Homo sapiens: one gene and its partners. The protein of the gene in region 6 interacts with the protein of the main gene of each other region in a pairwise test. Each region holds a gene or a part of one and is shown on either strand. Other genes may lie near its edges.

What was found.
Region 1: the proteins of CEP126 (region 6) and FAM118B interact in a two-hybrid assay, tested with the Homo sapiens proteins (one large-scale study listed by BioGRID and IntAct).
Region 2: the proteins of CEP126 (region 6) and ING5 interact in a two-hybrid assay, tested with the Homo sapiens proteins (one large-scale study listed by IntAct).
Region 3: the proteins of CEP126 (region 6) and FEZ1 interact in a two-hybrid assay, tested with the Homo sapiens proteins (one large-scale study listed by IntAct).
Region 4: the proteins of CEP126 (region 6) and GSTO1 interact in a two-hybrid assay, tested with the Homo sapiens proteins (one large-scale study listed by BioGRID and IntAct).
Region 5: the proteins of CEP126 (region 6) and OFD1 interact in a two-hybrid assay, tested with the Homo sapiens proteins (one large-scale study listed by BioGRID and IntAct).
Region 7: the proteins of CEP126 (region 6) and SPDL1 interact in a two-hybrid assay, tested with the Homo sapiens proteins (one large-scale study listed by BioGRID and IntAct).

The regions. Positions count from the first base shown.
Region 1 is NC_000011.10:126,217,979-126,222,220, reverse strand, and holds part of FAM118B (protein FAM118B), read right to left. Parts: intron 1-4,242. UniProt on the Homo sapiens protein: May play a role in Cajal bodies formation.
Region 2 is NC_000002.12:241,711,835-241,716,076, forward strand, and holds part of ING5 (inhibitor of growth protein 5), read left to right. Parts: intron 1-143; coding exon 144-237; intron 238-4,242. UniProt on the Homo sapiens protein: Component of the HBO1 complex, which specifically mediates acetylation of histone H3 at 'Lys-14' (H3K14ac) and, to a lower extent, acetylation of histone H4. Component of the MOZ/MORF complex which has a histone H3 acetyltransferase activity.
Region 3 is NC_000011.10:125,454,227-125,458,468, forward strand, and holds part of FEZ1 (fasciculation and elongation protein zeta-1), read right to left. Parts: intron 1,881-4,242; coding exon 1,609-1,880; intron 1-1,608. UniProt on the Homo sapiens protein: May be involved in axonal outgrowth as component of the network of molecules that regulate cellular morphology and axon guidance machinery.
Region 4 is NC_000010.11:104,260,839-104,265,080, reverse strand, and holds part of GSTO1 (glutathione S-transferase omega-1), read right to left. Parts: intron 2,103-4,242; coding exon 2,004-2,102; intron 1-2,003. UniProt on the Homo sapiens protein: Exhibits glutathione-dependent thiol transferase and dehydroascorbate reductase activities. Has S-(phenacyl)glutathione reductase activity. Also has glutathione S-transferase activity.
Region 5 is NC_000023.11:13,737,595-13,741,836, reverse strand, and holds part of OFD1 (centriole and centriolar satellite protein OFD1), read right to left. Parts: intron 2,992-4,242; coding exon 2,923-2,991; intron 2,836-2,922; coding exon 2,805-2,835; intron 2,794-2,804; exon of another isoform or gene 1,624-2,793; intron 1-1,623. UniProt on the Homo sapiens protein: Component of the centrioles controlling mother and daughter centrioles length. Recruits to the centriole IFT88 and centriole distal appendage-specific proteins including CEP164. Involved in the biogenesis of the cilium, a centriole-associated function.
Region 6 is NC_000011.10:101,920,954-101,925,195, forward strand, and holds part of CEP126 (centrosomal protein of 126 kDa), read left to right. Parts: intron 1-1,687; coding exon 1,688-1,807; intron 1,808-4,242. UniProt on the Homo sapiens protein: Participates in cytokinesis. Necessary for microtubules and mitotic spindle organization. Involved in primary cilium formation.
Region 7 is NC_000005.10:169,586,386-169,590,627, reverse strand, and holds part of SPDL1 (protein Spindly), read right to left. Parts: intron 3,430-4,242; exon of another isoform or gene 3,256-3,429; intron 2,256-3,255; exon of another isoform or gene 2,235-2,255; 5' UTR 2,212-2,234; coding exon 2,053-2,211; intron 2,030-2,052; exon of another isoform or gene 1-2,029. UniProt on the Homo sapiens protein: Required for the localization of dynein and dynactin to the mitotic kintochore.

The DNA of each region.
Region 1 (4,242 bases), about 24 Mb from region 6:
TGCTCTTCTGTGAGGTAGATGCTATTATCATCTCATATCATAAATGGTATAGACAATGAAACAGAAGCACACAGATGTTAAGCAGCTTGTTAAAGGTCACACGACTATTACACATTAGACATGGAGTCAGTGTTCATGTTGTTAAGACACAAAACAATACCATCTCACAAAAACGAACAAGCCGTGGGCCACACTCTTAACAAGTCTACACCTTTGGAGAAACAGAACTATAAACAAACCTTTACAACATGTTTGTGCCAAGTTTCACATGCCTGGATGAGGTACCAAGGAGATGAGCACTTCTGCTTGAGGAAAATCAAGGAAAGCTTTATGGGAGATAAATACCCTTATGGCAAAATTCAATGAAATTGTTGGTGTTTATCCTCCTCTGCCTCCTGAAACACCCAACACTGAAGTCCATCTTGCCTTTTCCTGGTTTTCCTCCCTCCCCTCTAGTGGGAGGTCTTCCCTGTTTCCTAAATGCTGAGGATCCGCAGGGCTCTCCAGTCTATTCCCTTTACATACTCCCTTCCCTTCCCACCCCATTCACCCCTAGATATTAAAATACCAACTAAACGCTAAGGACTCCCAAAACGCTACCTTCAGTTCAGATCTCGGTGGTGCTTCAGGCCCAGGAGATAGCCATGTAAGTTTCAGTCAGGCAGCCCTTCAATATTGAAAGGTACTTTCAGACTGTACTTCAAACTTAAAAACCAAAAAACCGTTCAACAACCTGCTCCTTATCCTAAGTTATACAGATCTCTGAATAGTAGAAATAAGCTATGTGATAATATTTATAGGCCATTATTTCTTTCTTTCTGTTTTAAGCACCAACATATGTATTTACTGATTTTGGAAAAACTGTCATATACTTCAGAATAATGTATTTGGATCATTTCTAAACAAGAGAATATGAACCAAAGGGAACCCAGGGAAGAAAGTAAATCTGTAACCTTAAACTAGCATGATATTCTTTTCAGGATATTCTCTTTTTCCTAATAAAAATTAGCCAAAAATTAATATTGTTTTTCTTTGAGATGGAGTCTTACTCTGTCACCCAGGCTGGAGTGCAGTGGCTTGATCTCAGCTCACTGCAGCCTCTGCCTCCCGGGTTCAAGCTATTCTCCTGCCTCAGGCTCCCAAGTAGCTGGGATTACAGGCCCACGCCACCATGTTTGGCTAATTTTTGTATTTTTAGTAAAGACAGGGTTTCACTATGTTGGCCAGGCTGGTTTCAAACTCCTGGCCTCAAGCGATCCACATGCCTTGGCCTCTCAAAGTGGTGGGATTACAGGCATGAGCCACTGCGCCCGGCCTACTATTCTCTTTGATCTGAAGATGAACTGAGAGCTGAAAAGCACTGTTTAGATCTGAAATAAGAATCTGAAAGCTCTTAAAAAAAAAAAGGCATTATTTGTCACAGAAGCCATCAGAACAACTACAAAGACCAGGTTTCTTAGGAGAAATAGCTCTAAAAACATGGTTTTGCCAAGCAGGTAGCATCAGTCTTTTTTGTTTGAGACAGTCTTGCTCTGTTCCCCAGGACGGCAAGATCATGGTTCACTGCAGCATCAAACTCTGGGGCTCAAGGGATCCTCCTATCTCAGCCTCCTAAGCAGCTGGGACTACAGGTGCGCACCACCACACCTGGCTAATTTTTAAATTTTGTTGTAGAGATGGGCTCTTGCTATGTTGACCAGGCTGATCTTGAACTCCTGGCCTTGTCAAGCAATCCTCTTGCCCTGGCCTCCCAAAGTGTTGGGATTACAGGCATGGGCCACCAAGCCCAGCCAAGCATCAGTCTTAAAAAAAAAGTGGCCAGTGAAAACAATTGAGGGTATTAAAAAAAAAAGAGAGAGAGAGAAAACAGAAAGCAGGTTAGGGAGACTAAAAACATACTTTCATAAGGAAGTGAAGGAGGTCAGTGGAAGACCAAGGAGGACTCTCAGGGAGCAGCCAGAAAGCTGGGCAGCCTGGGCCCAAGGGAGGCAGGTGGAGACTTCATTCAGAAAAAGAGAGCACCTTTCCCCCAGATTTGAAAGTAACAGATCACTGCAGGAAATATGCAGAAAGAGCAAAATGAAGCCCCCCTTCCTCCAACGTGGAGCTAACCACTGCTGACATTCGGATTTATGTGGAGAAAAGCAGTTTTTAAGAGGAACTCTCGGAATAAGTCTGAGTATCTTGGGTTCATGTTCATATCAATTCTAAAAACTTCATTCATTAGAGTTTGCCCCTGCTTTCACACCATAAATCTCCATACATATAAGCCCCCCCTTTAAAAAAAATTCTTCCTTCAATGTCTTATTAAAATTAACTTAAAAAAAAAACTCAAGCAGCTCGAGCTGCTTTTTTTTTTTTTTTAAGTTAATTTTAATAAGTACAGTAGTGCATGTTTTCTGCAGTAGAAGAAAGAAAGAAGCAGTCTATTTCTAGTGGCTGGGGGTAGGGAGGTGCTGGGGAAGAGCAGGAACCTAGGAAGAGTCAGCAGAGGGTAGCCACGCCCCAGCCCCATGGACGAGACTCCTGAGGAATCCATAAAACTGCGAAGTACTAAGTTCTGGCAACAGATCTCAAACCTGCTCCTTAGCAAGAGAGCTAAAAAGAGAGTGTTTCTTATGTACTCTGTTAATTTGACTCTTAAGGCATATAAACAATAGGGAGACCCTGTCTCTACAAAAATAAAAAACTTAGCCAGATGTGGTGGCATATGCCTATGGTCCCAGCTACTTGGGAGGCTGAGGTGGGAGGATTGCTTGAACCCAGGAGGTCGAGGCTGCAGTGAGTCATGATCATGCCCACTCCAGTCTGGGCAACAGAGAGAGACTCTCAAAAAAAAAAAAAAAAAAAAAAAAAAAAAAAAAAAAAAAAGATAAACAAGAGCTGAAGGATAAGCTTCCAAAATAAACGAGGAAAACAAGAAATCTGTGCTTTTCCTTATGTGATATTCCTGTGCTGCATTCCATGACACTAAGAATATAAAACATGATAACTTCTGTCCTTACGTGTTTACTTCTTAATCTTTTTCAAAGTACGCTATTAAAATGGCAACAGAGGAGTTTTTCTTTTTTCAAGGTATAAAACCAAGAATGTGAGGTGCAGGAGATAAGCATTCAATTTTTCAATGAATTTTTGGAGATGGAAAGCAAGCTTTAAATGCAGATCTGAAAATACGGATTGGCATAAAGTCTATTTAACTAATGCGCAAATTCTCTTCCTCACCTCCTATTTTCATCTATTTTCTCCACCCCCAAATCCAGAGGTTTAAAGAAAAATGAACCGAAATCTGAAATGGGTCTGGAGTAAAATACATCAGCAGGAGCAATGAAGAACTGAAAATACAGATTATGTCAAAAGATGCATACTAAAAGGTTCTCCAAGCCTCCATCCTTGTCCCAGCAACCAATGCACTGTCAGCTAAAGAAATATTAGCAAACATATACATTTGTACAAACATACACACAAAATCCATATATACCAGCCACCCTATAGTAATGGCCACCACCCAACAAGACCCACGCTGGGAACTTAAAATAACAAAAAACAAAACAGAAATGAACAGTCAGAATCATGAGACATTCAAAGAAATCCCACAATAAAATAATTCATTTATTCCTTAAGTTATTAAGCATCTATTCATCGCCAGGCACTGTTTCAGAGGCTGGAATTATAGAGGTAAACAAAAAAAAACCCAAAATCCCTGCCCTCATAGAATGTTTATTTTAGTGGTGAGGGAAACAAGTAAATAAATATGTGGGATGCTAGATGGTGGGAAATGCTTCTGGAGAGAAACAAAGCAGGGAAGTGAGATGGGGGTCTGCACTTCTCAATCCAGTGCTCTCTTCACTGAGGTGACATTTAAGGAAAGACTTGTGGATTCATCCAAAGTGAGGTGTGGGAGCAAGTCGCTGGATATCTGAGGGAAGACACATCCAGACAGAGGCACAGGTGCAAAGGCCCACATCACCTGAAGGAAGTGGAGCCTGTGCAGAGAGGAAGAAAACTCAAATACTCCAGCGGGCCCTCTGAGCCCACCATATCCACATAACAAGAATGGATATTACAAAAAGGTATCAAAGAAAAATTAAAGATTGAGCAAAAAATCACAGAAATAGTACAAGAAAACATCCCGGAACTAGAGGACGTGAATTTCCAGAATCAAAACCGTCTGTGAGAAGCCAGCACAACAGCTGAGTAAAAGACCCATACCCTGGTGTTAATACACATCATAAAACTGCAGAA
Region 2 (4,242 bases), on a different chromosome or scaffold from region 6:
AGGCTGCGGTGAGCTATGATTGCTCCGCTGCACTCCAGCCAGCCTGGGAGACAGAGCGAGACCCCTTTTTAAAAACAAAACACAAAACTTGCCTTGCTTTAGAGAATTCTATAAAAATAATTTGCATCTTGATTATTTTTCAGAAGGCCGGGGTCAGAAAGAAAAAAGAGGGTCCCGGGGCCGAGGCAGGAGGACATCAGAGGAAGACACACCAAAGAAAAAGAAGCACAAAGGAGGGTAAGAGGCTTTCCCCTCTTTTTCCCAAAAGAACGAATACCCATAGCCTGTATCCCGGATGTAGGAACACTGATGGAAGCTGACCCGAGTGAAGTGCACCCCGTGTGCCGGGTGGTATTCTGATTCTTACGCTGCGCGCCTGTCGTCAGCCTGTCCTCACCGCAGCCTTTGAGGGGGTGCCGTTGTCAGGGGCATTTTCAGTGTCGCAGGGACCTGCCCAGGCTTTAGGGCTGCTGTGGTGCGGCTGGGCTGCACCTGGAGTCTGACTCCAGTGCCTGTCCTCTTAGCCACAGTGTGTGCTGCCCCACTAGGGACAGGAGGATGGTGAGCAACGTGTTGTTGACAGAGGCCAATGTAGACCACTCTTTAAGTAGCTAGATTTCTGTATATCTGTCAGTTATTTTATGTGTCAACATATAGTGTGCATATATTCATTGTTAATTATGTGGCCACATTTATTAAATAGACATGTCATTTAACTTGAAGTTTTTTGAGATACTTTATTTAAAGCATTCTCCCACTGACACCCTCCCTGCCAAAGGTGTTGTATACCCTCCAAAGAGATCGTAGCATTACCTCAGAGGAGTGACATTTAGACTAAAGAGAAAATGCTGAAATGCCACGAAGCCTCTGTGGAGATGATCTCACAGAGGGAGGGTCAAAGAGTGTAAGTTTTGGGCACGGTAGCTCATGCCTATAATTCCCGCACTTTGGGAGGCCAAGGCGGGAGGATCACTTGAGCCCAGGAATCTGAGACCAGTCTGGGCAACCAAGTGAGTCCCCCATCTCTACAAAAAATAGAAAAAATTAGCTGAGGGTGGTGGTGTGGGCTGTAGTCCCAGCTACTAGGGAAAGCTGAGCTGGGAGGATCATGAGCCACGATCGCACCACTACATTCCAGCCTGGGCCACAGCATGAGACTCTGTCTCAAAAAAAAAAAATAAAGAGAAAAAAAGAGTTCTTCTTGACAAAAAAGGGACAATTTTCTTTTTTTTTTTTTTTGAGATGGGGTTTCGCTCTTGTTGCCCAAGCTGGAGTGCAATGGCGCCATCTCGGCTCACTGCAACCTCTGCCTCCCAGGTTCAAGCGATTCTCCTGCCTCACCCTCCTGGATAGCTGCAACTACAAGTGCGCACCACCATGCCCGGCTAAGTTTTTGTATTTTTAGTAGAGATGGGATTTCACCATGTTAGCCAGGCTGGTCTCGAACTCCTGACCTCAGGTGATCCACCTGCCTCGGCCTCCCAAAGTGCTGGGATTACAGGCATGAGCCATCACACCCGACCCAATTTTCAGTTTTTTTTTTTTTTTTTTTTTGAGATGGAGTCTTGCTCTGTCCCTCAGGCTGGAGTGTGGTGGCGCGATCTCAGCTCACTGCAACCTCTGCCTCCCAGGTTCAAGCAGTTCTCCTGCCTGAGCCTCCCAAGTAGCTGGGACTACAGGTGCATGCCACCACACCCAGCCAATTTTTTTTTATTTTTTGTAGAGATGAGGTTTCACCTTGTTAGTCAGGATAGTCTTGATCTCCTGACCTCGTGATCCACCTGCCTTGGCCTCCCAAAGTGCTGGGATTACAGGCGTGAGCCACTGTGCCCAGCCCCAATTTTCAGTTTTTTAGCTAGTGCTTAGCCTTTTGGCCGGGCGAGGTGGCTCATGCCTGTAATCGCAGCACTTTGGGAGGCCAAGGCAGGTTAATCACCTGAGGTCAGGAGTTCAAGACCAGCCTGACCAATATGGTGAAACCCCGTCTCTACCAAAAATGCAAAATACTTAGCTGAGTAGTTGGCAGCTGCCTGTAATCCCAGCTACTCGGGAGGCTGACGCAGGGAGATTGTTTGAACCCGGGAAGTGGAGGTTGCAGTGAGTCAAGATCACACCACTGCACCCCAGCCTGGGTGACAGAGCAAAACTCCGTCTCAAAAAAAAAAAAAAAATCCCAACATTCTCGTATTGTAAAGTAGTGCACAGATACAGAAAACCGCACAGAACAAACATGGTTTAATTAATTTCCGTAAAGTGAAGATCTTTGTAAGTAGCACCTAGTCAGTGATTAACTGCTGCTGGAAGGCCTTCCATATGCCCTGTTAAAATCATAAACTCCTCCTGCCCCCAAATAAACATGATCCAGATTTCTATAGTGTTTATTTCCTTGTTTCTTTAATAGTTTTATAGTGCATTCCTAGACACTATACATTATAGTTTAGTCCTGTTGTTTTTCTAACCTTTTAAATTAACTTTATTAAGGAATAATTTACATACAATAAAATGTTATTCTAAGTGTACAGTTTGATGTTGCATTCAGTTCCTTTAAAGTTATGGAAGTATTCAGGCTTTCTATTTCTTCTCGAGTCAGTTTTGGAAAAAATCTGTGTCTTTCAAGAAATTTGTTTCATGTAAGTTGTCAGATTTTTTTGACATCAGGTTGTTAATAATTTTGCATTATTATGGTTCTGATGTGTCTGTTATGATGACCCCTCTTTCAGTCCTGATACTGGTAATTTATGTTTCTCTCATTTTGTCTTGATCCTTTTTTTTTTTTCCCTGAGGGCAGGGTCTAGCTGTGTCACCTAGGCTGGAGTGCAGTGGCATGCACATGGCTCACTGCAGCCTCCACCTCCCTGTCCCCAGGCTCAAGTGATTCTCCCACCTCAGCTCCCGAGTAGCTGGGACCACAGACATGCGCCACTATGCCTGGCTAATTTTTTGTAGAGACAGGGTTTCATCATGTTGCCCAGGCTGGTCTCAAACATCTGGGCTCAAGCAGTCCGCCTGCCTCAACCTCTCCGTGTGTTGAGATTACAGGCGTGAGCCACTGCGTCTGGCCGTCTTGATCTTTTTAGAGAACTAGCTTTTAGTTTCATTATTTTTATTGTTTTCTCTATTTTTTTGTTTGCTATTGCATTTGTTTCTACTCTCTATTTCCTGTTTTCTACTCAGGTTTACTTTGCCTATACTATTCTAGCTTTTTAAGGTGGAAGTAGCTTGCATAATTGATTTTTATATCTTCCTTGTTCTAATTATTATCTTTGTTGCACTCCACAAATTTTGATATATTATGATTTTGATATAATTTTGATATTGTTTTAAATTTTTATTTCGTTTACCTATTTAAAATATTTTAGAATGTTTTTCTTGTTTTTTGAGATGAGGTCTCACTCTGTCACCCAGGCTGGAGTGTAGTGGCATGATCCTGGCTCACTGCAGCCTCCACCTCCTGGGCTCAAGAGATCCTCCCACTTCGGCCTCCCAAGTAGCTGGGACCACAAGTGCATGCCACCATGCCTGGCTAATTTTTTATATTTTTGGTAGAGATGGAGTTTCACCATGTTGCCCAGGGTGGTCTTAAACTCCTGAGCTCAAGTGATCCACCCACGTTGGCCTCCCAAAGTGCTGGAATAGAATTTTTTTTTTTTTTTTTTTTTTTTTGGTGAGACGGAGCCTCACTCTGTTGCCCAGGCTTGAGTGCAGTGGTGTGATCTTGGCTCACTGCAACCTCCACCTCCCAGGTTCAAGCAATTCTCTTGCCTCAGCCTCCTGGGTAGCTGGGATTACAGGCACGTATCACCATGCCTGGCTAATTTTTTTTTGTATTTTTAGTAGAGACAGGGTTTCACCATGTTGGCCAGGCTGGTCTTGAACTCCTGACCTCAGGTGATCTGCCTGCCTTGGCCTCCCAACATACTGGGATTACAGGCGTGAGCCACCGCACCTGACCTAGAATTTTTTTTTTCATGCTACTTCTTTGCCCTATAACTTATGTAGAAGTATGTGTCTCAATTTCCAAATAATTTGGGATTTTTCAGATACCTTTCTAATTTTAATTTTTTAGTTGACTTCTGTTGTGGTCAAAGAACATTACATAATTGAAATCCTTTGAAAGCCAGCTAATTTTTGTATTTTTAACAGAGACAGGATTTCACCATGCTGGGCAGGCTGGTCTCGAACTCCTGACCTCAAATGATCTGCCCACCTTGGCCTCCCCTCCCTGTAAAGTGCTGGGATTAC
Region 3 (4,242 bases), about 24 Mb from region 6:
CTCAAGAAGGGCAAATGCTTCTTGCTACACTGTCACCACACCCAGGGACCTCTCAGCTACCAGGCTGTCCCAGATAACGCCCCAGGGTTCTGTGACTAGACAGTAAGTGTAAGACACTGGCTTACAGAGACAGGCCAGAATTGAAGCCTGAGCTTTGCAAGAATAAACAGAGTCTCAAGAACTCTTATCTTAGTAAGTCCCTCAGGGCTACAAGACCCCTCTGCATCCCCCAGTTTTCCTCCTTTTATCCTCCATCATGCAAATAGAAAAATAAAGCAGTTCAGTCAAACTTAAATGAACCATGATGCAAAGATCTTAGGGGAAAACAAAATGTTCAGCTATCAGAAGAGGCTGTCTTAAAGCAACTGTCCTGATGGGGGAAGTTTTTTTCAAAATGTACATGCGGAGAACTAATTCCATAGGTCTGTGATAGAGCCTAGGGAAAGGCATTTTGAAAAAAACTCCTTAGATAATTCTACTGAGCTCCCCTGATTAAGAAGCATGAGTGGCTGGGCGCAGTGGCTCACACCTGTAATCCCAGCACTTTGGGAGGCCGAGGCGGGGAGATCACGAGGTGAGGAGTTTGAGACCAGCCTGACCAACATGGTGAAACTCCGTCTCTACTAAAAATACAAAAATTAGCCAGGCGTGGTGGTGTGAACCTGTAATCCCGGCGACTCAGGAGGTTGAGACAGGAGAATCGCTTGAACCCGGGAAGCAGAGATTGCAGTGAACCGAGATCGCACCACTGCACTCCAGCCTGGGCAACAGAGTGAGACTCCATCTCACCAAAAAAAAAAAAAAGAAAAAAAAAATGAACCATGAGAACCAGGGGTTTGGGTTAAACCCAAAAATAGAACAATAGAACAATAAGGCATCTGGGGCCAGGCACGGTGGCTCATGCCCGTAATCCCAACACTTTGGGAGGCCAAGATGGGCAAATCACCTGAGATCAGGAGTTTGAGACCAGCCTGGCCAACATGGTGAAACCCCATCTCTACTAAAAATACAAAAATAATCCAGGAGTGGTGGCATGAACCTGTAATCCCAGCTACTAGGGAGGCTGAGACAGGAGAATTGCTTGAGCCCAGGAGGCGGAGGTTGCAGTGAGCCGAGATGGTACCATTGCACTCCAGCCTGGGCAAAAGAGTGAGACTCTGTCTCAAAAAATAATAACAATAATAATAAGGCACCTGATCATTTTCAATCACTGAAACACCTTAGCACGCCCTAAAGAGACCAGTCAGGACTGGAACCTGGGACACAAGGAGGGATTTGGACCCAGAATTCTGAGGCCCATCTCAAGACTCCCAACACGAAATACCCTCACTCCACTTTCTTTAAGGTCTTGCCTACAGAGAACACAAGCCAAATTCAATTATTTCCTAATGTACACACTGTCTTCCTGGGTTAGACTGTGAGCCCTTTGGGGGAGTGGAGGAGATAGGTGATATCTTCTCCCTTTCTGACCCCCTGTCTGTCACAGTGTGCTGCTCACCACCACTGCTCGGTAAACGTTGATGAGTCCCCTGCAGGGTTGGTAGGGCACTGAAACGGGCAGGGTTGGAGGTTGGAGGCACCCAGTCTTCCACCTGGTTGTTCACCTACCTTGAGAGGCATCTGGTTTCCCTTCTCTATCCGGCTGCTCTGCAGGCTCAGCCCTTTCTCTTTCCGCCTCTTTTTCATCAGTTCTCGCTGCTCCTTCTGCTTGTTCTGAACCTCAATAAGCACCGTGATAAAGGAGTTCTTCACTTCCTTCTCAAACTCCAGCTCGTCCCGGCGGGCCAGCTGCTGCACCAGCTCCTCCGAGAAGTCACGGATGGCACCCTCCACCTGGTCCAGCAGCTCGGTCAGCTCAGACCCAGACATGTGCCTCAGCCCTGCAGGGGAAGACCGTCTCCCGCATAACACCTGCATCCACACCAGAGCCCGCTGGGGAGGCTCCTGGGGCCACCACCAATCAAGATGGGACTGCCCCTCAGAGGAGATCCCTTCCAACTCCTTAAAGATCCAAGAAAGACCTTCACAATTTACGAGCACGCCAGGAAGGCGGGGGCCTGTGTACTGACTGCAGAAGAGAACACCCCTCTCAGGAAACAAAGGAGGAAGAAGAAACAGCCCACGAGGAAGTCTGTGGACTCTATTCTCAAAAATGGGGATGGTTTGTTCCTTCTATTTTCTATCTGTGTCCATAAGATTCCTTGTGTGAAATGGGTCAAGAATTGGGGATGGAAAAGTGATGGGAGGGAGGTTTTTGTCATCCATACTGAAGAGCAATAGAGACGTTGGTGCTTATTCCCAAGAACTGATCAAGATATAGCATACGGCAACAACAACAAAAAAGCCGACCATCTGAGCCCTTCTTTACATCTCTGGTCCTGTGTCGCAGTGCATGTATTCAAAAATATGTGAAACCTGGAAGATTGGTGACTATGCATGAAAAAATAAAGCCTAGCGGGTTAGCATACGGCAGTCAGCTACTTTCAAAGGAAAGAAAAGGGAAGCTGAGATCATGGGAAATATATAACTTTAAGAAGTCTCCTAAGACTTCTTTCATTTAAAATAGATTTGGATATTTTATTCCAAATTTTTCTGTTTACATGTTATATATTTTCATAGTTGAGATTATACTTGTATACAGGTCTAAATCATGCTTTAAAACTTTATACACTTTAGGCCAGGAGCAGTGGCTCATGCCTGTAATCCCAGCATATTGGAAGGCTGCGATGTGCGGATCACCTGAGGTCAGGAGTTCGAAAACAGCCTGGCCAGCATAGTGAAACCCTGCCTCTACTTAAAATACAAAATTAGCCAGGCATGGTGGTGCCTGACTATAATTCCAGCTATTCGGCAGAGTGAGGCAGGAGAACCGCTTGAACCTGAGAGGCGGAGGTTGCAGTGAGCAGAGATCACACCACTGTACTCTAGCCTGGGCAACAACAAGAGCAAAACTCTATCTTAAAATAAAAATAAATAAATAAATAAATAAATAAAAACTTTATACCCTTTAAGCATTTTCTGATTAAAAATTCTTTTAAACACTTAAAAAAAAATTTAGGCCAGGTGCAGTGGCTCACACCTGTAATCCCAGCACTTTGAGAGGCTGAGGTGGGTGGGTCACCTGAGGCCAGGAGTTCGAGACCAGCCTGGCCAACATGGTGAAACTGTTTCTACTTTAAAAAAAAAAAAAAAAAAAAAAAAAAATATATATATATATATATATATGTATATATACACATATATATGTATATATACACATATATGTGTATATATGTATATATATACACATATATATAATTTGAAAAAATAAAATATACTTGGGAAACATCTTTTAAAATGTGTCTCCATCTAATGGTATCTTTTTGCGGCAGGGGAGGAAGAATTAATTGATTGACTGGTTTTTAATTTTTAATTTTTGTGGGTACATAGGGGGTGTATGTGTTTATGGAGCACATGAGATGTTTGGATGCAGACATGCAATGCATAATAATCACATCATGGAGAATGAGGTATCCACTCCCTAAGGCATTTTTCCTTTATGTCACAAACAATCCAATTATACTCTTTTAGTTATTTTCAAATGTACAGCGTCTAATGGTGTCCTTCACTTTCACCTCAGAATCCATTTCCCTCTTCCTCTTTGTTTCTGCTTTGCCCGGATATTTGCTGACTTGGTTGGGCTTTCCCCTTATTCTGCTCTTTGGAGCTGCCCTCTCCCCCTTCTGTTTTTTTGCCATTTCACTCTGCATTTCAGCTGTTTTCACAAGTCTTTTGCTGAACGCGTCTATCTTTGGGACCTTTGTGTGGCTGGGAAGGGCCTGACAAGGGCAGTCGGGAATGCAGCGAGGCAGCCAAGTCCAGTTCAGCACCGAGCAGACTCTCTGCCGGCCACCTCCTGCCGCTGCTATTCAAAGCCAAAGTCTGACTTGCAGGATGCAGGCCTCCAGATTCTGCCTCTGCTTTCACCACTTCTAACCCGCAGTTGACCTTTGAACCCTGACCAACCCACCTTCTCCCTCCCCTGTTTCTAAGTTCCCATCTCCCCATGGGTGGATCAACTCCTAGGATGGGGCCCCTTCTGCAGCGTGGGCATTTGATACCCTACGGCTGGTGAATTGTTCTGCCTTTGCTGTGTTACACTTTTTCATTTCATGCTTCATCCAGCCGTTTCTTGTGCACAGTCATAATTACTATAAACCTGTGTCAGAGAGTTAAGAGGATGGCCTCTGGAGTTAACCTACC
Region 4 (4,242 bases), on a different chromosome or scaffold from region 6:
TCAATTTAAATTCTTTTCAACTTTACGACGGTGCAAAAGCAAGCATTCAGTAAAAACTCTACTTTGAACTTTGAATTTTGCTCTTTTCCTGGGCTATCGATTTGCAGTATGATAACTCTTGATGCTGGGCAGCCATACCATCAAGAGAGTAAACAACCAATGCTCTAAAGTGTGCTGTGTTGCCAGCATCTTTTGGATGCAGGTATTCGATAAATTATATGAGATATTCAACACTTTATAAATATTTTATGTTTGATGGTTTTATGTTTGATGATTTTGCCTAATTGCAGGCTAATGGAAGTTTTCTGAGCACATTTAAAGCAGGCTAGGCTAAGCTATGATGCTCTGTAGGTTGGGTTTATTAAATGCATTTTCCACTTATGATATTTTCAGCTTACGGTGGGTTTATTGGATGTAACCCCATTGTAAGTGCAAAAGCATTTGTACTTAAAATATACTGGAAATAGACTGGATTAACTGCTAAACAGATGACAATCATTTGAAAACAAAACACAAATTGTATGTTTCTGAAATTTTAAGAAGGCGAATTGGTTACAGGGTTTGCCAAAGGGGGTGATTGAGAATATTATCTGGCTATTTAAACCACCAAACTAATTTGCCCTTTATAAATAACCTCCATAGTTTTTTTTCAATGCATAATATGCATTTTAGATTGCTTATATCTACCTACTGTGTTCTGTCTACTACTAAACTAATTATCTGAAGAATATGGACTGCATCTTACTTTCCAGCTCCCACACTGTTCAGCAGAAAAATATAAAAGTACCAACACTGATTCAAGAAGAAATATAAAACCAAAAAACCAATTACCATTAAAGAAATCAAACTAGTAATGAAAAATCTACCCCTGTTAAAGACACCAGGCTCAAATGTTTTAAAGAAACCGCTAGTCCCTACCAAATGGTTTCAGAGATTAGAAAAACAGGTTAGTTACCCAACTCATTTTATGAGGTCAGAATATCCTTGAAACCAAAAGCCAATAATGATACTATAAGAGTAGAAAATTTATAGGCCAATCTCATTTATGAACACACATACAAAAATCATTCATTAGCTAATTCTACAGTACATATAAAAATCCATAGAGAACAAGTAGGTTTTATCTTAGGAATGCTAGGATGGTTAAACATTAAAAAAAAAAAAATTTGTCAATAGCACCATATTCACCAGATTAAGAGGAAAAAATTCTATGAACATTTCAATAGATGTAACAGATGCAGAAAAACCATTCAATAAAATTCAACATTTATGACTTTTTTAAAAATTAGCAAACTAGTAATAGAAGAGAACTTTATAATGAAAAAAAGGTTTCTGAAAAACCTACAGCAAACATCATGCTTACTGATAAAATGTTAAAATGCATTCCCATGAAAGACAGGAACTATGTCTTCTGTCAGTAAAAACTTCAGGCTTAGCATGAATGAAATATTTCAAGGCCAAGAGACAGACTCCAAGGCCCAAATGTCAGCTGTCCCCAAAAGAAGGTAAAATACATCTGGGCTTCCCTCAAGTGTCTGTACTGTTCATTGCAAACTTTTTCTGGTGGGAAATATTTAGTATGTAATACTAAGTGGACACAGGAAAAAAAGCAGGACACAGAATGATATCTATGCTCTGATTAGAGCTATATTAATTTTTTTTAAATATATGGACAAGGACTGCAAACAAGCATGGAAAACTGGATACATAAAAACTTGTGGAAACGTGGGTACAATTTCCTTTTTCCTTGTTATTTTAACATTAGCAGAATATTTTAAAAGCAAGCCCATGACAAAGTCTGTTTAGGTGTTTTGATTTATATCTTAAGCAGGACAGCTTTCTGCTTTATAACAGCAGTCTGCTGTAAACAAAAATGTTTAGGGGAATTTTCCTAATTACCTTAAAGTGACTTGGAAAGTGGGAATATAAAGAAAAGAATAGGAGGAAAAGGAGGGTAGATATAGTTATCGTTTACTCTGATGATAGCTAGGAGAAATAATTACCTCCTCTAGCTTGGTAAATTCTTTACGAAATTCTTCTTTTAGGCCAGCATAGTCTTCTTTATTTTGGCTTCTAATAAAGCTTCCTACCAAGGATGGCACCTAGACAGAGAATAATTTCTTAGTTTATCAGTTTATGGCTAACTGTATCGGCCCCCTCACATAAAAATATGGTAGAACCCTTACAGTCCTGGTGTCAAGGTGTTCTAGAAACACCAAGGGTGCATCAAGTTCCTGCGCTCACAGAGGTAATGGACTGGTCTTAGGAACAGTTTTGTGGCCTAAAATGCTGGCTTGGTCAGGATTTTATAAATTACAAATAACAGAAGCTACCCTGGCACGTTTAAGAAACAACTTTCTTTCTTTTTTGAAATGGAGTCATGCTCTATCACCCAGGCTGGAATGCAGTGGCACGATCTCAGCTCACTGCAACCTCCACTGCCCGGGCTCAAGCAATTCTCCTGTCTCCGCCTCCTTAGTAGCTGAGATTATGGGCGTGCGCCACCACGCCAGGCTAATTTTTGTATTTTTAGTAGAGATGGGGATTCACCATATTGGCCAGGCTGGTCTGAAAACTCCTGACCTCAGGTGATCCATCTGCCTCAGCCTCCCAAAGTGCTGGGATTACAGGCTTGAGCCACCACGCCCGGCCAACACAACTTTCTTTAAAGGAGACTGAGTGGCTCATAGAATTATTGGGAGGCGGAACAAACAGGCTTGGAATTAAGACAGAACATCCCAAATTCATGCTGAGAAATGGCCTAATGGGAAGCACTCACTGCTGCCAGTCCAAGCTGAGCACCAGATGCTTCAGTTTGTGAGGCTGCCAGAAAGTAGAGTCTGAGATAACTGCTAACACCACTGGCACTGATGCCATTTCTACTCTGGAATTTTATCTTGTAACCCACACTGCTGAAACCCAGAAGCTCTGCCGCTGCTCTCACCAGGAAAACCAGTGGAGAGCTGAATATCTTAAGCAGATATCCCACCAAGCCTGTTTCCTTACCTTGCTCGTTTCTGATTTGAACTCTATGTGTGTGTCTGACAGGAAGAGCCTAGGTCACAAAACTTGGCCCCAACTGCAAAGAGCTAGGGAAGAAAATTTTTCTGATTTCTTTGTTGGGGAGGACACCAGGAGACTGTTCAAAAGGGACCGACTACCTAAAGACTTGATGGGTGTAGCATCAGATGCTTTAATGCTCGTGATGGTGTTTATGTGTTTTAATACTTTGGTCTTTGGTATCATTTTATTGCAAGACGCAGAAGTCCACTCATCCTAGTTTAAGTAAACAGGCACTTGTAAAAATATAGAATCCCATGAAATCCCATCCACATCAGTTCAGCCTGCCTTCACTGGGACTGAAGGCTTTCAGGCAGCCCTTTCATCCACATTTCCACCTGGGTCTGCCTGGTCTTTCGTCTGTTTTTCCTCACATTTCTGCTCCATATTACTTTGCATACTTCAGTCCCTTTGCAATGTTTTTAATTCTTGCTCCTCTAAAAATTTATTTCTTAAGTGGCTTTGGTTTTTCTAGCCTCTAATTAACATTATTTGAGCCCCAACGCTTAGTTGTCTTTACTGTCCTAACCTTTACTGTCTTAGTTCTGTGTCTCATTTCCAAGTTCCCAGGAGAGAAGATAACTGGCCCAGGTGTGTGGGGTGGGGTACATTTCTGTTCTGATGGGCTGTGGCCAGGAGAGCAGGGTCATATGTACATAAAGCCACCTCTCCTTTAAAACCCAAGCAGGGAAGTAAAGGTGGGCATCTTCAGCATTACTTTTAAATCTCATTTTCTTTCTAGATAGTACAATGAATCTCTTGTGACTACTTTTTAAAGTAGTAGCTTTATGCATGAAAGTAAAGCTTCATGTCTAAAAGCTTTACTTTTAAAGCTCATTTTCTCTGACGTGTCCTACAAGTCCTTTCACGATCCAGTTCCTGTTTACCTCTCCAAAGTTACCCCTTTTATCTCTTCTCCTGACACTTTATATTCCAGCCATACTAAAAAAAGTTTTCCAGAACTGGCACCAGACCAAAGAGATTTTTCTTTAAGAACCACTTAGGCTTATTTTTTTTGGTTGGTATTGATGACTTCGTGTCTTGAAGCTGCATGCCTTTAACTTGTTACTACTTTGTAAAACTCTCCCACATCGTTCTTGAAAATGTCATGTTCCCTTTACATTATCTTTCACAGCAGCCGCCTCTACTATTCTTTCACCCTCATCTTACTAAGCAGATGAC
Region 5 (4,242 bases), on a different chromosome or scaffold from region 6:
AATCGACCTTGTGACATTCTTCTTCTGGACAATGAGTCCCAAGATCTCTCCACCATGCACCTTGGGACCCCCTCCCCTGCTAACAATAAATAACCACCTTTAACTGTAACTTTCCACTGCCTACTCAAGCCCTATAAAGCTGCCCCTCTCCTATCTCCCTTCACTGACTCTCTTTTCGGACTCAACCCACTTGCACCCAAGTGAATAAACAGCCTTGTTCCTCACACAAAGCCTGTTTGGTGGTCTCTTCACACAGACACGCATAACAGATATCATTATCTCTGAAAGGAAAATTAGCAGTGGGAAGAATGGGTGACTAGAATCTAGGAGGAAAAGTACCAAGGCCATTCAACAGCTTAGCACCCCCTGAGCATAGATATGGTAGGATAAGACCATAGGTCTGAGTCAGGGGACAGACAACGGTTAAGTACACAATATCTTCCTACATGTTTTCTGTTACTTAATTAGAAGACACCAATTTTTAAAAAAATTTTATCTTACCAGGAGCTATTTTGTTAGCTAAGAGTTCTATCCAAATTTTGGCACTAGGATGCCTGACCTATCTGCTACTCATAGTTTTTCTGGCTTCCAGAAATTTTACTGGGATGCTAGGTGAAGCTGGTAAGGGCTGTCGGCCAGATGTCTTTCTGAACCAGATGCATTTAAAGAGACTGTGTAAAAACTATTTTTTTTTTTTTGAGACGGAGTCTTGCTCTGTCGCTAGGCTGGAGCGCAGTGGCGTGATCTTGGCTCACTGTAACCTCTGCCTCCTGGGTTCAAGCGATTCCCCTGCCTCAGCCTCCCAAATAGCTGGGACTACAGGTGCACGCCACCAGGCCTGGCTAACTTTTTTTTGTATTTTAGTAGAGACGGGGTTTCACCATGTTGGCCAGGATGGTCTTGCTCTCCCGACCTCGTGATCCGCCCGCCTCAGCCTCCCAAAGTGCTGGGATTACAGGCGTGAGCCACTGCGCCCGGCCATGGAAAAACTACTTTTAAGGATAATGTATCTATAGTAACTACATAGATTTTTTTTTTTTTTTTGAGATGGAGTCCAGCTCTGTCACCCAGGCTGGAGTGCAGTGGCGCTATCTTGGCTCACCGCAACCTTCGCCTCTCTGGTTCAAGCGATTCTCCTGCCTCAGCCTCCCAAGTAGCTGGGATTACAGGCACTCACCACCACGCCTGGCTAATTTTTGTATTTTTAGTAGAGATGGGGTTTCACCATGTTGGCCAGGCTGGTCTTGAACCCCTGACCTCAAGTGATCAGCCAGGTTTGCCCTCCCAAAGTGCTGGGATTACAAGCATGAGCCACCGTGCCTGGCCCATAGATTATTTCTTAATATCCCTTCAAGCCACAAATTTCCTTTTGAAGTAATAGTTAAGCAAAAGATACTAGCTATATACCTCAGAATTATGCTAATATGGTAGTCACTATGCAAGTGTAGCTAATTAAATGTAAATTAAAAATTCAGTTATCCAGTCACACTAGCCACATTTCAAGGCTCAAAAGCCACATGAGGATAGCAGCTACCACATTAAACAGCATAGACACAGACATTTCCATAATCACAGAGAGTCACACTGGACGACACTTAGAGTACAGAATATAGGATCATTTACCATACTGAACTTCAGTAGAGATGGTCTAGTTTGCGGGCAGTCCAGAATATCTTGTGCTCCAATTTATTTATATTCTGCTAACATTACTACCAAGAGACTTGGCGATTAAGTCACAGACTTAATGGCTGGCAGAAAATAAGTATTCAAATGATTAAGTTCTAAATGAATTGGCGAATGAATGGATGAATAAATGAATGTCCTTGTGGGGATGATAGTGCAGGCAACAGACAAAATCCAAGGGTGTACCAACACAAAAGGACTATTACTAACAGATTATTTTAAAAGACCTAAAGAATAACTATGCATCAAAGCCAAGTTGCCAGCTTATGTTCATGCTACAAAGCCCATCATCAAGTCTAACCAATGGCCTGAAACCCACAGTAGTTATGGACTCTATGAATGGCTATTATCAAGGCCAAAATTAAGGCAATTTATTAGGTCTATATAAACATTTTTTTTTTTTTTGAGACGGAGTTTTGCTCTTGTTGCCCAGGCAGGAGTGCAATGGCGTGATCTCAGCTCACCGCAACCTCTGCCTTCCGGGTTCAAGCGATTCTCCTGCCTCAGCCTCCTGAGTAGCTGTGATTACAAGCATGCGCCACTACGCCTAGCTAATTTTTTTGTATTTTTAGTAGAAACGGGGTTTCTCCAGGTTGGTCAGGCTGATCTCGAACTCCCGACCTCAGGTGATCCACCCGCCTCAGCCTCCCAAAGTGCTGGGATTACAGGCATGAGCCACCACGCCCGGCCTGTATAAACATTTAAGAACAAAAGATATATAACACATTACTGAACACAACTCTCATTCTTTAAGGAAATATTAATACATCTAATACCCTACCAATTATACTTGAGAGGGATACCTAGTATACAAAGACACTTGGCCTAAAAGTTATTAGTTTTTTTTTTTTTTTTTTGCAGAAATATTCCCAACAGTGGGTATTTTTACAAACAGTATCTTTCAGCCTGTCTGTAGGGCCTTTGATACTGTCTACAGTTTTTTTAATTGAATATCTAAAAGTTATTACAAAAATGGAAATATAGGGGAAATGACCTGCAGAAATCAAATAATTTAAATCAAATTAAATTTTACTCTTCTCCCTAAAAATTTGCTTCATTCTTTTAGAGGAAAAAGTACATAGAAAACTGTTGCTGTTCTCTACAAAGATGACGGCTCCTACCTTTTTGATTTTCTTTATCAGATCCTGAAACCTGTTAAAAGAAAATATTTCACTTTTATTCAGCTATTCAGTTATAATTAACAAACCAAAGTAGATTACAGAAACTAAGCCATCTTACCAGTGATTTGTAGAGACTGGAAGTAGGGTTGATTTTAATGAGTTGTAATAGATCCTGCATAGTAAATACCTTAAGAAAAAATAGGTTACTAAGTAGACATATTTTTATATCAGTGTTTAAATGATAAATTAGGATATGTTTCTGAATATGAAATTAAGAAACATCCTTCAGATTAAATAAGATTATAACTATGCTAATAAAGCAAATTTCAAGCTCTTTCTTACACTGTTAAATAAATTACTATAAACATATCAAGGTCAAAAGGATAAAATATCTTTATCATCTAATTAACTTCTAAGTACTTCACATCAAAGATGATATGCCTAAATGTTTAATGCCTTACAGATGACACTGAAATATCTGATGAACCAATGACTACATGACTGAGTTCCTGGGTCATTCAATTACAATTTTTTAAAAAGTATTCATTGTTTAAAAATGTAAATAGATTTTTACTGTCCTTAAAACCGTAATTAAAGTGTACTTAAAATATTGTTTAACAGACATTTTGGGTAGCTATTAAAATATATTTCTACTACAGTATATACCATTCACTATGTCTGCTCTGAGAACACTGATATTTGTTTTCAATTGGTTTTCCTTTAAAGTAAATATTCTGCATGGGCATTTTACATTAGTAGAAACCGTTAAGTTGTATGAATAGGATTAATTCCTGCTATATAATTGTATTATTGACTATTACACAATAAGTAAAAGTATAAAGTGATTAGAAAGTTAGAGAATGATGTATCAAAAATGAATTCCAGGCCAGACACGAGGGCTCATGCTTGTTATCCCAGCTCTTTGGGAGATTGAGGTGGGCAGATCACCTGGGGTCAGGATTCGAGACCAGCCTGGCCAACATGGTGAAACCTCCTCTCTACTAAAAATAAAAAAGTTAGCCAGGTGTAGTGGTGGGCACCTGTAATCCCAGCTACTTGGGAGGCTGAGGCAGGAGAATTGCTTGAACACAGGAGGCAGAGGTTGCAGTGAGCCAAGACTGCGCCATTGCACTCCAGACTGGGTAACAGAGCAAGACTCTGTCTCAAAAACATAAATTAATAAATAAATTCCTAATGCTGACAAATAAAATTTGGTTGCTTATGAAGAAATGCAAATTATTTAAGTTTTCATTCAAATACTGTACTAAGCTTGTGTCACTAAAACTTTGGAATATGAAACTTTTGGATAATTACAGAAAACACAAAGAAAGTAAAAACATATGAACACCACCAAGAGTGAAATTTATTTTATTTTTGAGACAGTCTCGCTCTGTCACCCAGGCTGGAGTGCAGTGGCATGATCTCGGCTCACTGCAAC
Region 6 (4,242 bases):
AAAACAGAAAATTACTCTGACAAATTTGATAAAGATACTTAATAATGTCAATTAAAACGCAACTAAATAAATTGGAGAAATTACTCATATTGCTACAACTTATTTAAGGAGAGTTTAATTTTATAAAATAAATTTCAAGTGAATAGATGATTAGGATAACCAAAATATTCCTCTTTTTCTCTGACAAGCTTCTGGATACACAGATGACTATACATAGTTTTCCTAGTGGTTTTTTATAACCACTAAGTCACTAAGTAAATAACTAAACTGTATTCCTAACCATTCTAGTTATATTGCTATTTGATTGTTTAATATTTGAAAATGTACTTTCCTACTATAGATTAAGGGATCTGGTGAAACATTTACTCCATCTACTTTCTATTAGTAAAATACAATCTTCTTATTTCATTTTCTTATATTCATGACTATGAGGGCAACTTGTTAGTAAGTACTCAAATATCTGTGTAATGAGGCCAAGCACGGTGGCTCACGCCTGTAATCACACCACTATGGGAGGCCGAGGCAGGTGGATCACCTGAGGTTAGGAGTTCGAGACCAGGCTGACCAACATGGTGAAACCCCGTCTCTACTGACAATACAAAAATTGACTAGGTGTGGTGGCACATGCCTGTAGTCCCAGCTACTTGGGAGGCTGAGGCAGAAGAATCACTTGAACCCAGGAGGCAGAGGTTGCAGTGAGCTAAGATCATGCCACTGCACTCCAGCCTGGGCAACAGAGTGAGACTCTGTCTCAAAAAAAAAAAAAAAAAAACTGTGTAATGAATGAAGATATACAGTCCTCTTTATCTGAAGTTCATGATTTCTTTTTTTTTTTTTTTTTTTTTTTTTGAGATGGAGTTTCGCTTTTGTTGCCCAGGCTGGAATGCAGTGGCGCAATCTCGGCTCACTGCAACCTCTGCTTCCCAGGTTCAAGAGATTCTCCTGCCTCAGCCTCCTGAGTAGTTGAGATTACAGGTACCCGCCACCACGCCCGCCTAATTTTTGTGTTTTCAGTAGAGACAGGTTTCACCGTGTTGGCCAGGCTGGTCTCAAACTCCTGACCTCAGGTGATCCACCCGCCTCAGCCTCCCAAAGTGTTGGGATTACAGGTGTGAGCCACCGCGCCCAGCCTGAGCTCATGATTTCTAAAAGTAGATTTTTTTTCTCCAGGAAAAGTGAGCTATATCTTACTTTCTAATACCAAGTCAGAATTTTTTTTTTTTTTTTTGAGATGGAGTCTTGCTCTTGTCACCCAGACTGGAGTGCAATGGCACAACCTTGGCTCACTGCAACCTCCGCCTCCCGGGTTCAAGCGATTCTCCTGCCTCAGCCTCCCAAGTAGCTGGGAATACAGGCATGCACCACCACGTCCAGCTAATTTTTGTATTTTTAGTAGAGACGGGGTTTTGCCACGTTGGCCAGCCGGGTCTTGACCTACTGACCTCGTGATCTTTCTGCCTCAGCCTCCTAAAGTGATGGATTACAGGTGTGAGCCACCGCACCCAGCCCCGAATTTTTTTTACATAAAATGTTTGCCAGTCATATACTAATGTGGGCACATACTAATTATTCCACAAAAACTATCATTACATCATTTGCATGAGGCTGTAGTTATATTTATCATATAGCACTGACAGTCATCCACTAAAGATGTAGACCATTGTTCTTAACTTAATGCTATCATTAGAGATATGAAAATCCATCTGGAGAAAAATTTAGAAGAAGAGCGCCAGATATTACTGCAGCAACAAAAAATATGTCGAAATCGAGCACGTAAATATTTTGTGGAGTCAAATCGGAGAAAAAAGTAAGTAATTGCACTTTATTCAGAAGTATAGAAATTCAAAGTCAATATAAAGTAATAGTTTCTCTACTTTGTAGCACTTTATGAAACTAAGTCATGGCAGTGTTATCTGTGAAACATTGATCAAGATTTGTGTGGCTTTGTAAATTTTATTATTGTTTTCCTTCCCAAAGCACAAGGGTGGTGGTGTATTATCTAGGTCTCTGACAGTAGCAGTCTTTTTTTGTCATAGAACAGCTTATTGCATTGTCATATACACTTCTTAAAATGACTATGAAATGTATTATCTTCTTTTTTTGTATCATTTCATGATTTCATGATGATTTTAAAATTACCAATTAATATTTAGTCTTTTGGTATATAGTTTGAGTTTAATTTGTTATTCACTTCTATATAATTTTTCTATATCTGCCACTTTTCATTCGTTCAATCTGAAAAATTGGAAAAAATATGAATAATGGTATAAAAATTGGAAAAATATGAATAATGGTAGCAATATGAATAACAGTAGAAGTGGTAGAAATGTTTTATAAGTGAATGCTAGAAAAAGGAGCTTTCTAGGGTAAACTAGAAACTATAGTAAAGAAAAAGTACAAATTGTTCAATCACTGCTTAACATTTTTCAGGATGTTTTTTAAATATTAGGCTTTTTTTGAGACAGAGCAGTTATGCCATTTTTTAATTGTTGTTTTTGCTACCTTGTCCATATTTCTACAATATATGAATAGCAGAAAATCCCTAGACTTTATTAACTACATCACTGGGCATATGTTAACAAATCCCATTTGGGGAATAAAAAATTGTTTACCTGTAATTTTTGCCTGGCATTATGTTTCTCTTCAGATTAACTTTTTTATTGTCTGATGTAGTTGAAATTATTTACTGAAATTTAGAATTTTATTTTGTATGCATAGGTTTCTGCTTTTCTCCTACCTTTGGGCTCCTGGCATCTATAAACGGCGTGTGACAGGTGTTCAGTAAAGATGAATAATCATATGTTGAAAGAGTAATGGACTTTGGAGTCAGAGATCTAGGAAATACTAGCTCTATGAATTAAAGGATGTCTGTTTAATGTCTTTAAGCCTCAGTTTTCTCATTTATGATTGGAATTAATTACATCTATTTCAAGGGATTTTGGTGTAGAGCAGAAAGGGTAGAAATAAAGTGGAATATTTGAGAATACATGTAAAAATATCAGTGTCTGACACATAGGACTTCTTATTTTTTATTATTAATGTTTATCAGTTGTTTATTTTACAATAATCAACTTTAATAGCAAGCCTTTATGGAATTTTATTAATAAATTTTCTATTTGTATTCTCTCATCAAATGTAAGAATTCTTATGTAGAAAATAACAGAAAAGAAATCTTGGTTTAAAATTCTAAGAGGCAGGACATTTTCCAATACAATATTATTGTGTTTTATTTTCCGTTACCCTAAAGTGCAATGTAAAGATACATAAACATTTCTTTTAAAACACTAATCATTTGTCTCTGTATTTCACCTTTTATAAGGGGGCTGAATTATTTGTGCACATCCGAATTTCAGAAGCTGTCTATGATTATGGTCTTCTTAACCATGCCATTGTCTATCAATTTATACTTTACATCATTTAAGTTTATGCTGTCCACTTACATTGTGGTCACAGAGGATTTTTTTGTTTTGTTGTTGTTTTGGGGCTGTGTGTGTGTGTGTGTGTGGTTTTTTGTTTTGTTTTGTTTTTTTGAGATGGAGTCTCACTCTGTCACTCAGGCTGGAGTACAGGGGCACAATCTCAGCTCACTGCAACCTCCGCCTCCCAGATTCAAACGATTCCCCTGCCTCAACCCCCCGAATAGCTGGGATTACAGGCACGCACCCCCGTGCCCGGCTAATTTTTTTGTGTTTTTCATAGAGACAAGGTTTCGCCATGTTGGCCAGGCTGGTCTTGAACTCCTGACCTCAAGTGATCCTCCCATCTCAGCCTCCCAAAGTGCTGGGATTATAGGTGGTTTTGGGTTTTTTTTTTAAATAGTATTTTCTTCAGGTAGAGACAGTCTCCTGCCATTTGTCAGTTATACATTGACATTGTCAGTGTTATGTGTCCAGCAGAAGTCAAAGGAAAATGTTCCTAGCATCAAGTTCTCTTTATTTTCATTAGTTGCTTTAAATCACACACATTTTTATTTTCTTATTATTTATTGCATTTCTATTAGCCAATATTTTTCTTGCATTGTATGCTTTTATCACATCCTCAAGTTTTCCATTCTCTCAGTCAGTATCTATACAATGGAGTCCCCTTTGTTTCCCTCCAAGTCCCCTTTGTTTCCGGCTCCAGTAGATGCTGGTTATCTTTTAGGCCTATTGCACAACTGGCATCCCAGAACTTTCTTTTATTGCTCTTAGGAGTTGGAGCCATAATTTTTTGCCTCTCATAGCATCCCTTTGTTTGTTTGTT
Region 7 (4,242 bases), on a different chromosome or scaffold from region 6:
ATACTGAATTAGCCTTTACTTTCAGAATGTAGTCATCTGAGAAATGTCACAAAAGGTCTATCAGAATGAATGCAGAGCTGAGACAAAAGGAGTAATTAAAAGGGCTTTTGCTTACTCACAGGGAAGTTTAGACATTAAAAATGTTACAAGTACGAACTCCTTCAAGAGGCTTTAAAAAATGATAAAATATTCCCCTCAAAAACCATTTTATTTTAAAGGAAGACAAAGAGTATTAACTGTTAAACACTGAAATTTGACAAGTTATGACTCAAAATGATTAAGTATAACAGTTTTATTTTCTATTAGTGATATTTGTAATCTTTACTTTGCCTTTATGACTTTGCACTCAGTTCTTGGTTTACAACAGTACTATGTAGAAACACAAAGGTTGCCATCACTAGTTATTTTTACCTGCTACAGATATTTTTTACCTGCCATATTTACAATGTTGAGATTCAAGTTTAAATATGTTACTGAGCATTTGCTAAATTACCCAGATTTATTCATTCATTCTTTTAAGAAATAATCGTGTGGCAGGCATTCAGGATAGTGAACAAGGCATACAAAATTCCCTCTCTCATGGAGTTTATAATCTAGAGATAATTAGCAATGCAGATAATTAAGAGTGGAATCAGGGCCGGGCACAACGGCTCATGCCTGTAATCCCAGCACTTCGGCAGGCAGATTACGTGAAGCCAGGAGTTCAAGACCAGCCTGGTCAACATGGTGAAACCCCATCTCTACTAAAAACACAAAAATTAGCCGGATGTGGTGGCACACATCTGTAACCCCGAGCTACTCGGAAGGCTGAGGTAGGAGAATCTCTTGAACCCAGGAGGTGGAGGATGCAGTGAGCCAAGATTGCGCCACTGCACTCCAGCCTGGGCGACAGAGTGAGACCCTGTTTCAAAAAAAAAAAAGAAAAAAGAAAAAAAAAGTGAATCAGGGCAACTTTACATTACATAGTAAGGGCTGACCTCTCCGCTGAAGTGACATTTAAATGAAAGCTGAAATCTGAGGACTCAACCCAAGAGCAGTGAGGGGTAAACAACTCAAAAAAAAAAAAAAGGCAATAGCTGGTGTAAAGCCCATAAGGGAGGACCAGTATAGTCAAGAACAAGGCAAAGCAGTTTGAGGTGAGGTCAGAAGCTTGGCAGGGGTCAGGTCACATAGGGATCTACAAACCCAAGGATGGAGCTCAGATTTTGTTGTAAATAAAATCAGAAGCTGTTGTATGGTTTTTAGCAGGGCTGTGGCATGACCTTTGGTGTGTTATTCCACGACCACTTAGACGCTGAGTGAAGAATGAATGGCATGAATGGCAACAATGGAAGCAGGCAACCCGGCCAGAAGGCTACAATACTTGTCTAGGAGTGATGATGGTGATCTGGACTACAGTGCCAGTAGCAAAGATACATGCTTTGTAGTCTAGTTCTTAGAACTTATTAATGAGTGAAATGTGAGAAATAAAGGGAAGATATTGACTAAAAGTTCTAGATTTTTGGTATATAAAGAAACCAAAAATATACCAAAAATCTTTGGTATATAAAGATTTTTGGTGTTCAAGAAACTGAATGCTATTATATTTACTAAATAAGCTAAAAAAAATCGTAAAAGAATATTTGGTTAACGGACAGGGAATCCACTCTTCTGTCTGTGTTAAGTTTGAGAAGTCTATTAGTGGGCAGTTGAACACAAACCTAGATTTCATGGGGGAACTAAGGGCTTGGTGTAGTGTCATGGGGCACTTAGATGTTTAGAGGTCTAAAACAAGTGAGGTCTTCTAGGAAGTGTGCAGACAAAGCAAAATCTGGTAGTAAATGTGGCAAAGAGAGTAATGATAACTTGATCTTTCAAACTCTGAATACACTAGGGTGGAAAGAATAACAGGAATTCATTTAGTTCATTCTTTTTTAACAGGGACGGGGCAGGGCGGGAACTAGATCTAAAATCTTCAGAAAAGAATAAACTACTACTACTATTAATTGCTAAACAGGACAAATCTTCAATAGCTAAGCACACTCTTGCAGACAGAGGAGTCCAGAGTCCTACCTCAGTCATGGTCATCATTTCATTACGACATTTATCCAATTGATTCTGTAATTCATTTTGACTCTCTACTAGTTGTAAACCATACTGTGCAGCTTTTAGTCGCTCTTCTTCAGCCTCTTTGAGCCTGCATCGAAGATTTGTGATTATATCTGCCTCCATGTTCTTTTCTTTTTTTTAGCCAACTGTAAATAGAGGAAATAAAACTACTTAAGCTTATACAAAAAACTCCATGCAATAATATCAATAACAGAAGAAACATATCTACTCAATACTACTGTCGTATAAAAACATTAAAATTTTCTTCCTGACTAATAAGTAGTCAAATTTGCATTCTTGTTCCAAGAGCAAGAACTGTTCTGACAATTCTGTTACTGATTTGGGATCAAAAATTAAAGAGTGGAATAGAATACATTTAATTTTGCTTCTAAACAGTTCACCATCAGAAAACTGTTCAGTTGTTGTATGCTAAGCTTCCAATATGTTAAGGTAAGTTTGGTCTCATAATTGGACCACTATCCATATAATCAAAATTAAGGGAATAACAAAAAAGTAATCAAGAAACCTCATAGTAGCAGGTATGGTGGCTCATGCTTGTAATCCCAGCAACTGGGGAGGATTACTTGAGGCCAGGAATTCGAGACCAGCCTGAACAACATAGCAAGACTCCATCTCAATCAATCAATCAATAGAAATAAGGTGGGGATGGTGGCAAGCCCCCGTAGTCCTAGCTACTTGGGAGGCTAAGGAAGGAAAATTGATGGAGTTAGAGGCTTCAGTGAGTTATGATCATGGCACTGACAGAGCAAGACACTGTCTTGAGAAATAATAATGATAATAACAATAATACCACCAGAAAAGGAAGGTCTGGGTACTATAAACACATAAAATATAAAAAGGCAGCTGTGAATAAGGCTCATAAGGTAAAGTAAGAAATATCATGTCTGTAATTTTTCACAACAGTGTTAACTTCCTGAATATATTAAATCTGCTTTCCTGGAAAGAGATTCACTAGTATTTTTCTAGTTATTCATAAAAGTATGCAAAAATAGAAACCATATCCATAAGAATTAAAGGATGTTGCTTTCATTCTAGATTTATAAACAAAGACTTAAACATTATATATAGAAACATTCCACTTTAATCAACCTTACTAATTATCCTTTACTATTTGGTCCCAGCCTCCTAAGCGAGACTCAAACTCACCTTTGCCTTCAAAGGGCACCAGGTCATTGCAAGATGTTCCCCCATGTCTCAAGTCAATGTAGTCATTCACTGAACGAGTATTTCTTGAATGCCTTATATACTAGGTTCCATTCTGGGCAGTTCAGATTCATTAGGGAACAAAATGGACGAAAAAAAAGCTCCTCCCTCATGAAACTTACATTCCAGGAGGGGAAGATAAACAGTAAGTAACAGAATATTAATAAATTAGAAAGGGGAGATGAGAAAAAATAGAACAGAATAAGAATCTGGGAAGAAGGGACAGGTGATGTAACCAGGAGGCAGAAGATGAGAGAATCAGCCAGGCAGCTATTTAGAAGAAGAATGTTCCAGCAAGAGGGGAATCCTTAAGGCAGGAAGAAGCCCAGGGAGTGAAATTTGGCTAAGAGATAGTAGAGAGTGGGCAAATCAGGCCATTATAAGGACTTTGGCTCCTACTTTGGGTGACATGGGAAGTCATTCCAAAGTCTGGAGTAGAGGATCTGATATAATTTAAAAGAATCATTTTGGCTGCTATGTTGACTAGTTTAGAAGGGGAACAAGGCTGGAAGCAGAGACCATGTGAAATGGCTCAGACTAGGGTGGCAGCATAGGAGGCTGTGAGAAATGGCCAGATTTTGAAGGTTTTGAAGGTAAGGTCAATATGATTTTCTGAAAGATATAATTTGGGATGTGTGAAAAAGGGAAAAGTAAAAAATGCCTCCAAGTCTTCTGGCCTGAGCACCTAGTAAAATGGAATTGCCATCAGCTGAAGCACTGATGTAAATAATGTTTTGGAAATAAAATCAGGAATTTGAGTTTTGAACATGAACTATGTCAAGTAGGCAATTGGATATATGAGAAGAGGAATCTTGGCTGGATATGCAAATTTGAGAATTATCAGTCTATAGAGGATAAAAGTATTTAAAGAGAAATGGACCAACGACTGAACCCTGTTATGAGGTAGGGAAGAAGACAGCGGAGAATCAG